Linked DNA regions of Homo sapiens: region 2 is linked to region 1. The links come from fine-mapping of genetic effects on gene expression. A gene starts in region 1. The other region holds a variant in brackets. All regions are shown on one strand. Distances are from middle to middle. Region 1 holds the start of LINC02777 (long intergenic non-protein coding RNA 2777). Region 2 overlaps JUN-DT (JUN divergent transcript).

Evidence for each region. PIP is the estimated chance that this variant, and not a neighbour inherited with it, causes the effect. A credible set is the group of variants that fine-mapping cannot tell apart.
Region 2: its variant is the best candidate, but not a certain one, in a credible set for the expression of LINC02777 in whole blood (TOPMed, PIP 0.80).

What each region holds. Positions count from the first base shown.
Region 1 is chr1:58,902,610-58,906,999 of GRCh38, reverse strand. It overlaps LINC02777 (long intergenic non-protein coding RNA 2777), which reads left to right and starts at 2,862. Exons shown (of 5, transcript NR_183656.1): 1 at 2,862-3,432. RefSeq lists silencers at 2,769-3,018, 3,079-3,468.
Region 2 is chr1:58,892,101-58,896,490 of GRCh38, reverse strand. The region is part of intron 1 of JUN-DT (JUN divergent transcript); the gene reads right to left. LINC02777 (long intergenic non-protein coding RNA 2777) reads left to right here. Exons shown (of 5, transcript NR_183656.1): 3 at 482-646. Among named protein-coding and RNA genes, the nearest start is that of LINC02777, 9.8 kb to the left of the region's middle. The variant C/T (reference allele first, on the strand shown) is at 1,760.

The DNA of each region.
Region 1 (4,390 bases):
TTGGTGTTTTTTGATTTGTTTAGCTGTGTTCGCAGTTGTAATTCCATAGAGGCAGCAAAGGTTCTCTCTTAGCTGGGACTATTCAGGAGTGGGAGAGGAAAACCAATGCATTTTAACACAGGATTGATGTTTTCATCTAGATGTGACATCTGTGGTGGTGTGCTATGGGGCAGGAGGAATAGCATGTGCAAAGGCATGGAAGCAAGAGCAAGCTTAGAGTATTCAGGGGACTATGCGAGATTCTCTGGCTGGGAGTGGAGCTGGGAATGTGGTAGGAGAAAACGTGAAAAAGGTGAGTTAGTACTAGATTGTGGAAGGTCTTGAATGCCACCCCAAGGAGTCCGGACTTCATCCTGTTGGGAAAGGTGAGCCTCGGGAGCTATTTGAGCAGGATATTTGTGGTTTTTCATTGTTTGTTTGTTTGTTTTTAAAGACAGTAAACTGAATAAAACCTGGAGCCAATTTCTCCCTCCAGTTTTGCAGGTCTGATTTAGCCTAACTTTTTGCTAATGTGTTCGCTGCCTCCACCACACTCCAAACCCTACCTCCAAGGAAATGTATCTCAATTGACTGGGAATTATAGATGCACATTTCTGATGCTTTGAGTTCAGCCCACTCCCAATCAAGGCTGTACTGAAATTCCTTAGCATCCCACAGCTCTGTCCCCAGGCAGGACCCCATCAGTGGGGGCTGGGGGTGAGGCCCAAAAAAGTAGGAGCAGAGGCTTCTGTCCTCTGGCCACCCAATTGTAAACTACTCCTGAGACCCTCCCTTGGTGGAATTCATATTCTCCCTTTTCTTAACCCTTAATACAAATCATGTCTTCCTGGAGCCCAAGTGCAAAGTCATGAATGAAACTCACGTAAAAAGGCAGCTGTACCCTTTTTGGCTGTTCAGGATTCTTAATAATGAACAGGCTTGAAAGACAATAGGTTCTTTGTCCCCAGAGGTATCGAAACAGGCATGTGTTAGAGAGGATTCTTGCAGGCCTTGGGAGCCAAAGCCTGACAAGTGATGATCCTACATCCCACCCAACTAGTTACAAGCTTGTTAACCTCTAGCCTCTGTTTCCTCAGCTATAGAAAGGGGATCATAGTAGTGACTTCTTTACAGGGTTCTTGAGAATACTAAACAAGACAATGATGGCACTTGGCCCAATGCCAGGCACTAAGACCTGCCCAGAAAAAGCTGGCAATTATCAAAACTGGTACAATCCTCTACCTCTGAGTTCATGGTAGCCAGTGGTTGAGCTTCATGCTTCCAGGGGCAAACCAGTCATTTATTTTTTAGTGTGACCGCTAACTGGGAACATTACACAAGCAAAGTCCTAGAGGCACAGAATTAATACACTGAATATTACCCTTTGAAGTCATCTAGCAGCGGGAGCCAAACTTATCATTTTGCAGAAGGGGAAACAGATTCAGACAGAGGGAGGAACAGGCCCAATCCAAACATAAAGTTAAAGGCAGAGCCAGGATGAGAACCTAGGTCTCTGATACCTACTCCTGCTCTTAACTCTGCAACATGCTTTCTATCTCACTATCTTAGTAAGCAACATTCAAGACCTTCACGATTCCGTCTTCATTCAGTGAACATCTGATTACTTAGAGGTTCAAATTGCTTTCTATATCTTAACTCATTCAATCCTTATAGCAACCCCACAAGGCTGATCTTATTGTCAATCTCCATGTTGTAGATAAGGACAGTGAGGCTGAAAGGGGTTAAGTCACTTGGTTAAGGCTCACAACCAGTAGGTAGTAAAGCCAAGATCTGAAACTGGACAGTTGGGCTCCTAAGCCTGTGCCCTTAACCACAACACCATATTGACCCTTCAAGAGTGAAAAAGTATGTGGCGTCTGCCTTAGACAGGCATACTCCCCAGGTGGGAGACACAACCTGCAATAAGTGTGTGCAACCTCATACTATGGGCACCAAGAGAAGAAAGGAAGGAAGGATTAATTTTACAGGGGGAGGAGGGAGAGAATCAGGAAAGCTGCCTGGAGGAGGTGAGCTTTATCCAGTTTCCAGAGCTGACTCACTTTCCTCCAGGTTTCTCTGCAGATGGACGAGTCTTTGCTGAGGCAGGCAGGTAGAAAGGGACTGGAGCTTAAGGGATGCAGTCAAGGAAGTCAGTGAGAGAGGGAGGGCAGGACATTAGGCTTGAAGTGTGTGAGGTGGGCAAGTTAATGAACCTCCAAGAGCCTCAACTTTCTCATCTGCAGAATGGGGATGATAACACCCACCTTCTGAAGCTGTTTGAATATTAAATGAGATAACGTGTATATACTTCCCGACCCAGTATTATTCCTCTTTATTTACCTTTCATAAAACTATTTCACTCACTAAAAATAAATTTAATTGAGCATATTTTTGACACAGTAGCATTAATAATCTTGAGTGTCATTATCAGTCATTCATAATAACAATATAATGAATAATAATGTTAATTGCCATTGACAGCACTAAGTGCTTAAAATGTATGATCCGTATTTATCCAATCTAATCCTCAGAATGTATCTTAAAGATAGGTAAGGCGTCATTATCCCCATTTTACAGATGAGGATAATGAGGCTGAGAGAGATGGAGAAAGATATACAAAGGTCACCCAGCGAGGAAGCGGCAGGATGGGTATTCAGACCCAGGTCTGTTGGTCCCAGAAAAATGTCCCCCCACACAGAGGATGTCCCGTGTTTGCAGTTCATGTTGGTCTTGGCCACGTCCCTCCGCTCTTTCTCAGAAGGAAAACAAACATTCTAAGAGGTCTGCTAGGCCGAGGGAACGCGAACGCCAAAGAGAGGGAGGGAAGGGGCTGGCCGAGGCCGGAGGATGGGCCCAGACTGGGAGGGTGGAGCCGGCTCCTCGCCCCGAGCCCGACAGCCGCATAAAGCCTGCTGCTTTCACTGGCCCGGTGGGGGCCAGCAGGGTCAGGGCCCGCGGAAACCCTCAGCCTGGCGGGCCGGGAGGCCGCGGTGCTGCACTGGCTCGGCGCGCTCCCCGAGTGGCGCTCAGGCGGGGCGCGTTCATTTCATCTACAGACTGTCGGGAAGGCTTCCCGAACTCCTCCTCCCTGCCCGCCTTTGCGCAGGGCCGGACTCTTCGGAAACTGAAATCACGGGCCGCCCGGCCCCCACCAGTCCTCGTGGGATCCGGCCCGGGTTAACCTTCTATGGGGAGGCCCAGGAGGGCCGGGCGGAGCGCCGGGGCGGGCGTGCGCTGACGTGGCGAGCGGCTCCCTCCACCCGCTCCTCCCGCGGGCACTGCCGAGGCCCATGGGCGGGAAGCCGGGCGGCGGGCGGGACGTGGCCTCGGTCCCGGCCCTGCCCCGCCCCGCCGCCACTGAGACTCCCAGCGCCACCAACGTCGGAGTTGCAGTTTCTTTAGCTGTCATATGCAGACAAGTACTACCCACCTCGCCTTTGGAGTGAGCAGCATGTATGTACGGTACCTGACACCTAAGAAATGCTCAATGTATGGTCCCTACATGGTGTCACTGTGATTGTTGTCGTTGTGGTTACGCTGGGTTGGGCAGCTCGCCTTGTGAAATAATGAGCTCCCATTGCTGAGACCGTTCAGGCACAAGTTGAATGAGTTCGGGGGACAAAAAGAAATACGTTAGAACAGGAAGTCCCCCAAATTTGGCATCCCTCAATACCGATCTGGTGACTTCAGAATCACCTGGGAAGCTCAAACAGCACCTCAGACCAGGGATCGAAATCCCGGAAGGCAAGCTCGTCTAAAAGTACAGCTTCATGTGTAAACCACTGATCTAGGCCAATAGTCCCTGCACTTTTCATCTTCAAAGACCCTTCTGTGATTCCCTCCTGCCCCACTGACTGCACAGTGTAAAGTATGTTGTTGACCAAACTAGATTTAACTCACAATTAATTTACTCTCTAACTAAATTATTAATCAAAGCCCCAGAGTTCATTAAACAATTATTGAATACCTACTGTGTGCCAGGCACTGTGCTGGACACTGGTGGTCTGGCGGATAGACAAGGACTCTGTCCTCATGGACTTACCAGTCTGGGGAGGGAAAGCAGAAAATGAACAAGAATTCAAATACTGACACTGAAGCCAAGAGAATCCAGCTGAGCTGAAGGCACCCAATATTCCTACAATGAGCAGATATGGGTGTATCAAAAGCAAAAGCAAATAGAAGCCTGGCACGGTGGCTCACATCGGTAATCCCAACACTTTGGGAGGCCGAGGCAGGCAGATCGCTGCCTGCCTTAGAATATATTGTGATAGAGAAGAGTCCATGAGTTCAAGACCAGCCTGACCAACATGGTGAAACCCCATCTCTACTAAAAATACAAAAATTAGCCGAGCGTGGTGGCGCACTCCTGTAATCTCAGCTATTCAGGTGGCTGAGGCACAAGAATCCTTTG
Region 2 (4,390 bases), 11 kb after region 1:
GGTGGCTTGGGGGAATGAAGAGGCCACAGGCCTGGGCCAGGAGCTCAGTTCTGCCTCCAACTCTTACCACAGGCCAGTTGCTCTCAACTGTGACAAGTCACTTACCCTTCAGAGCCTCTCTTTCTGCTGCTGTAAACCAAGGAGGGCTTGAATGGTGAGGGCTGTCCAATCAATGACTGAACGTCTCAGGCTCCTCAGTGATGAAATGAGAGTACTTAGGCCTGCTTCCTGGGGCTAGTGGTGGATATTAAATAGGGTGGTGGTGTTAAGCCCCTGGCACGTGGTGGGCATGCAACGCATGCAGCCATGAAGGATACTTTCCTTATCTTTAGCACTTTACAGTGTCTAGCACAAAGTAAGCACCCAGCAAAAGATGCTCTTCTTTATTCTTGTAGCTCAGAGTTCTTTCACCTCTAAGACTACAAAAGCTCTCTCCAACTATGCAATTTTTATAATTAAGTATTTATTTCTTCTCCCCCAGCCCTGTGCCCATCCTGCTGTGATTCAGGAGTCTCGCAGAAGACATCAGAATGCCTTTCTCTGAGTCACAGTCTGTATCTTCTAGAAAAGGCTGTCCATCTTCACCCCAAGCCCACTGGCTCCTGAGATACGACATCCAGACCCAGTGCAGCTGGACCTGGCCCAGGTAAGCCAGGCTTCCCAGGGTCCGATCCCAAGCTTGCAGGGTTGGGTGGGAAGCTGGACCCAGGCAGCCCCACCCCGTCCAAGCTTCTCCGGATGTGGGTACAGAGATTACAAGGCCTCCAGCCTCCTCAGAGGAAGTACCCTTCCTCCTCTGCCCTGTGGGCAGACTGGACTTCTCTAGCAGCTGCAAGAGACTGCAAGATTGTTATTTGAGGTGGCTAAACTCTCACCAAGTATTCTTCTCCTCACTGCCTCCTCCACCTGCCCCTCCAATTTCCCTCTTCCCTTCCCAGCCCTTTTTCCTTCCTCCTCCTCCACTCCTCCTCCTCCTCTTCCTCATACCCATTCTCTCCTCCTGTTCTTCCCTACAGCTGTGCTTTTGACCCAAGTGACAGTCTGCTTATATTCCTAAGGGGAGAGTCCCAGCCAAGGGGAGAGAGATTGGCTCCTCTCTGTGGCTTCACGCCTCCCCTCTCAGTCCTTCCACAAAGATGTTCTGGTGGCCTCTGGCATATGAGGCCACCAGAACATCTGGCACTGGGCCAGCACCTAAGGGGCATAGCCAGGGGCTTGCACAGAGCTAGTTAGCCTGCTGGCCTGGGCCAGGCAAGCACACTTGGTTGGTTGGGTTGCATATTAACAAGGTGTCACTTCTGGCCACCTTCTTTACTGTCTCAAGGTCTTGCATGCACGCTCTGTTTCTAGAGTCATTTCACTGTGTCCCCAACAACTATTGTAACAACATATTACCTTAACTTCAACTAGCAGGTGCCACTTTGGGAGAATGTGGTTTTTTGTTTTTTGTTTTTTGTTTTCTTTTTGACGAAGTTTCACTCTTGTCGCCCAGACTGGAGTGCAATGGCATGATCTCGGCTCACTGCAACCTCCACCTCCTGGGTTCAAGCAGTTCCTCTGCCTCTGCCTCCCGAGTAGCTGGGATTACAGGCACCCACCACCACGCCTGGCTAATTTTTTGTATTTTTAGTAGAGACGGGGTTTCACTATGTTGGCCAGGCTGGTCTCGAACTCCTGACCTCGTGATCCGCCCGCCTCAGGCTCCCAAAGTGCTGGGATTACAGGCGTGAGAAAAAGTGTTTTAGAAAAGAGGTTCCTC[C/T]TGTTTCTCTCTATCCCCTGCCCACCAGGAAAGAGAAGCAGCGCTTTTTTGTTTGTTTGTTTGTTAGTTTGTTTGTTTGTTTTTGTTGCTGTTGTTGTTCTTTTTTGAGACGGAGTCTCACTGCATCACCCAGGCTGGAGTGCAGTGGCATGATCTTGGCTCACTTCAACCTTTACCTCCCAGGTTCAAGTGATTCTCCTGCCTCAGCCTCCCGAATAGCTGGGATTACAGCTGCCTGCCACCACGTCAAGCTATTTTTTGTATTTTTAGTAGAAACAGCGCTTCACCACGTTAGCCAGGTTGGTCTTGAACTCCTGACCACAGGTGATCCGCCCACCTTGGCCTCCCAAAGTGCTGGGATTATAGGTGTGAGCCACTGCACCCGGCCAAAAAGCAGCACATTTAATGGCACAAGTGGCCAAATGAGTAACGGGGCCACCCAGCTAACATAGCTGGCTTGAGTATGGAGTACTGGCAAGGAAGGATGTCAGGAGAGGAGGCTGGAGACCCAGCATGGGCCAAATCATGCCAGCAGCCACCACTGGAAGCCATTGCCCCTCGCATTCTGCAGCAAGGACTGCCTCTAGGAAGATATGGAGGCTGGGCTAGAGAATGGAGAGAAAAGCAGCAGGCAGACCCAGAGGAAAACAGTGACAATTCTTCTGGCCCCATCGAGCCTCTTTAATCCCAAATCTTTTCTTCCAAGCCACCCCTGACTTTACAAATCTCAAGGGTTCTAAGAGGCATGTGTTCATTCCCAAGCCACTTCTATACTCACCTGTGCCTTGCTGCCTGAGTGACCTTAGATAAGTCCTTTAGCCACTCTGGACATATTTTCTTTGCATGTAATCAGAAAGAAGGTGTGTGTGTGTGTGCATGAGAACACACACACACAACCACCAAAGGGTGGTTACAAAGCTTTAATAAATAAGACAATGTTACAAGGAAAGCACAAGCAGTTCTCTTTAGCTCGCCTTCAGCTGCTATTCCCATTCTACGAGGGGAAATCCTCACCCGGAAAACCTTGTTCACACTGGCACAGGTCCCAGGGCGTGAGCCCCTGTGGAGGCTGGGTCTCTCCCTTTCCATTTCCCTTGTTGACTTCCAGCGCGACTGTTGTTAGCTCGCAGATGGACAGGCAGTGCTCCATGACTTGCCAGCTGCCAGGCTGAATCTGCCTTGGTTCCCTAGGAGAACAAGCCTGATATCAAGGATGCAAAGGGGGCCATGGGGCCTCTGCTCAAGGCGGGAATCTCGGGTGTCTACACAGAGTCAGACAAGGGCTTGTGTTTAGGCTGCAGCTTCGAGATAACCTGCCACCTCCAGAAAGCCTCCCAGCAAGATAGAAGTTGGTGAGGTGACCTGGGAGTTAGGAAAGAGCAAGCAACAGGGGAGGAGAGGGAATCCCAGGAAGAGAGATGGAGCTTCGCAAAGGCACAAAGGTGTGAACGAGCAGGACAGGTTTGCAGTTCGTGGCCGCTACTGCCCTGAACACAGCTTCTCTGTTAATTAGTCACATTTTTGCTTTGATCATTTCTTCTCCCCAACTGCCCCATCCCCATCAACTGCCAATTTTCGTGCAGATTCTACCATCTTGTGGGTCTCTAGTATCCATTTCCTCTTCTCTACCCCTATGGCCATTGTCTGGGACACATAGCTCTTCTGGCCTAGACTAATTAGAACAGTTTTCTAACCCATCTCCTTGCCTCTAGTTTCTCCCACCTTCCAATCCATCCACCTCATAGTTGCCAAAATAATCTTTCTGACTGTGTTCCTTTTCTGCTTAAGTCCTTCAAGGACACCCCATCAACTCTGGGACCAATTCTGTAGCTTAGGACTCAGAACTTCCATAAGCTGATCCCATTGTCTTCCTCTCCTGCTTAATTTCCCAACAAAACCTACACATACCCTGAGTTATTACCACACTAACTATCAGTTCCCCCAAATAAGGCGTACAGTTTAATGCTGTCTGTTGCTCTTCCTTTTACCTGGAATTCCCTCCACCCCTATCTTTCTGGCTAACTCCTACTCCTTCTTCAGAACCCAGCTAAGGAATCACCTCCTCTAGAAAGGTTTTTCTGACCCCTCCTCTGTGCTCTCAGAGCCTGACAGCACATATATCTCTAGTATCAAGGTTCTTAGGGCTGGAATTCAGGAGCTTTGTGAATCTGTATGGGGGAAGAAATGTTCACTAACTTGTACATAAAATTAATTTAACATTTCCTTCAATTACAAATGTAGGCTCAAATCACAGTGATATCAATGGTTCCTGTAATTTATTACTAATAGAAATCATAGTTATGTTCATACCACTTTACAGTTGTTACAGATTATCTAAAAATTGTATCTATGATTATCAATATTTTGAAAATAAAATAGTTAATAGACCTATAGATCTGGTTACTCAGTGTACAAATATGAAACCACATACATTATTACCAATTTATTTTTTTCTGTATTTTGTTAACTTTTGAAAAATAATTGCTTTCTTTACCATTGTATGTGCTTAATTTTATGCATTTTAAAATGTTATTCTGAGAAGAGGCCCAAGGGCACCATCAGACTGTCCAAGGGCTTCCCAGCATGAATGGTGACACCTTCTCTGGCATAATGCTCTTAAATCCCCACTGT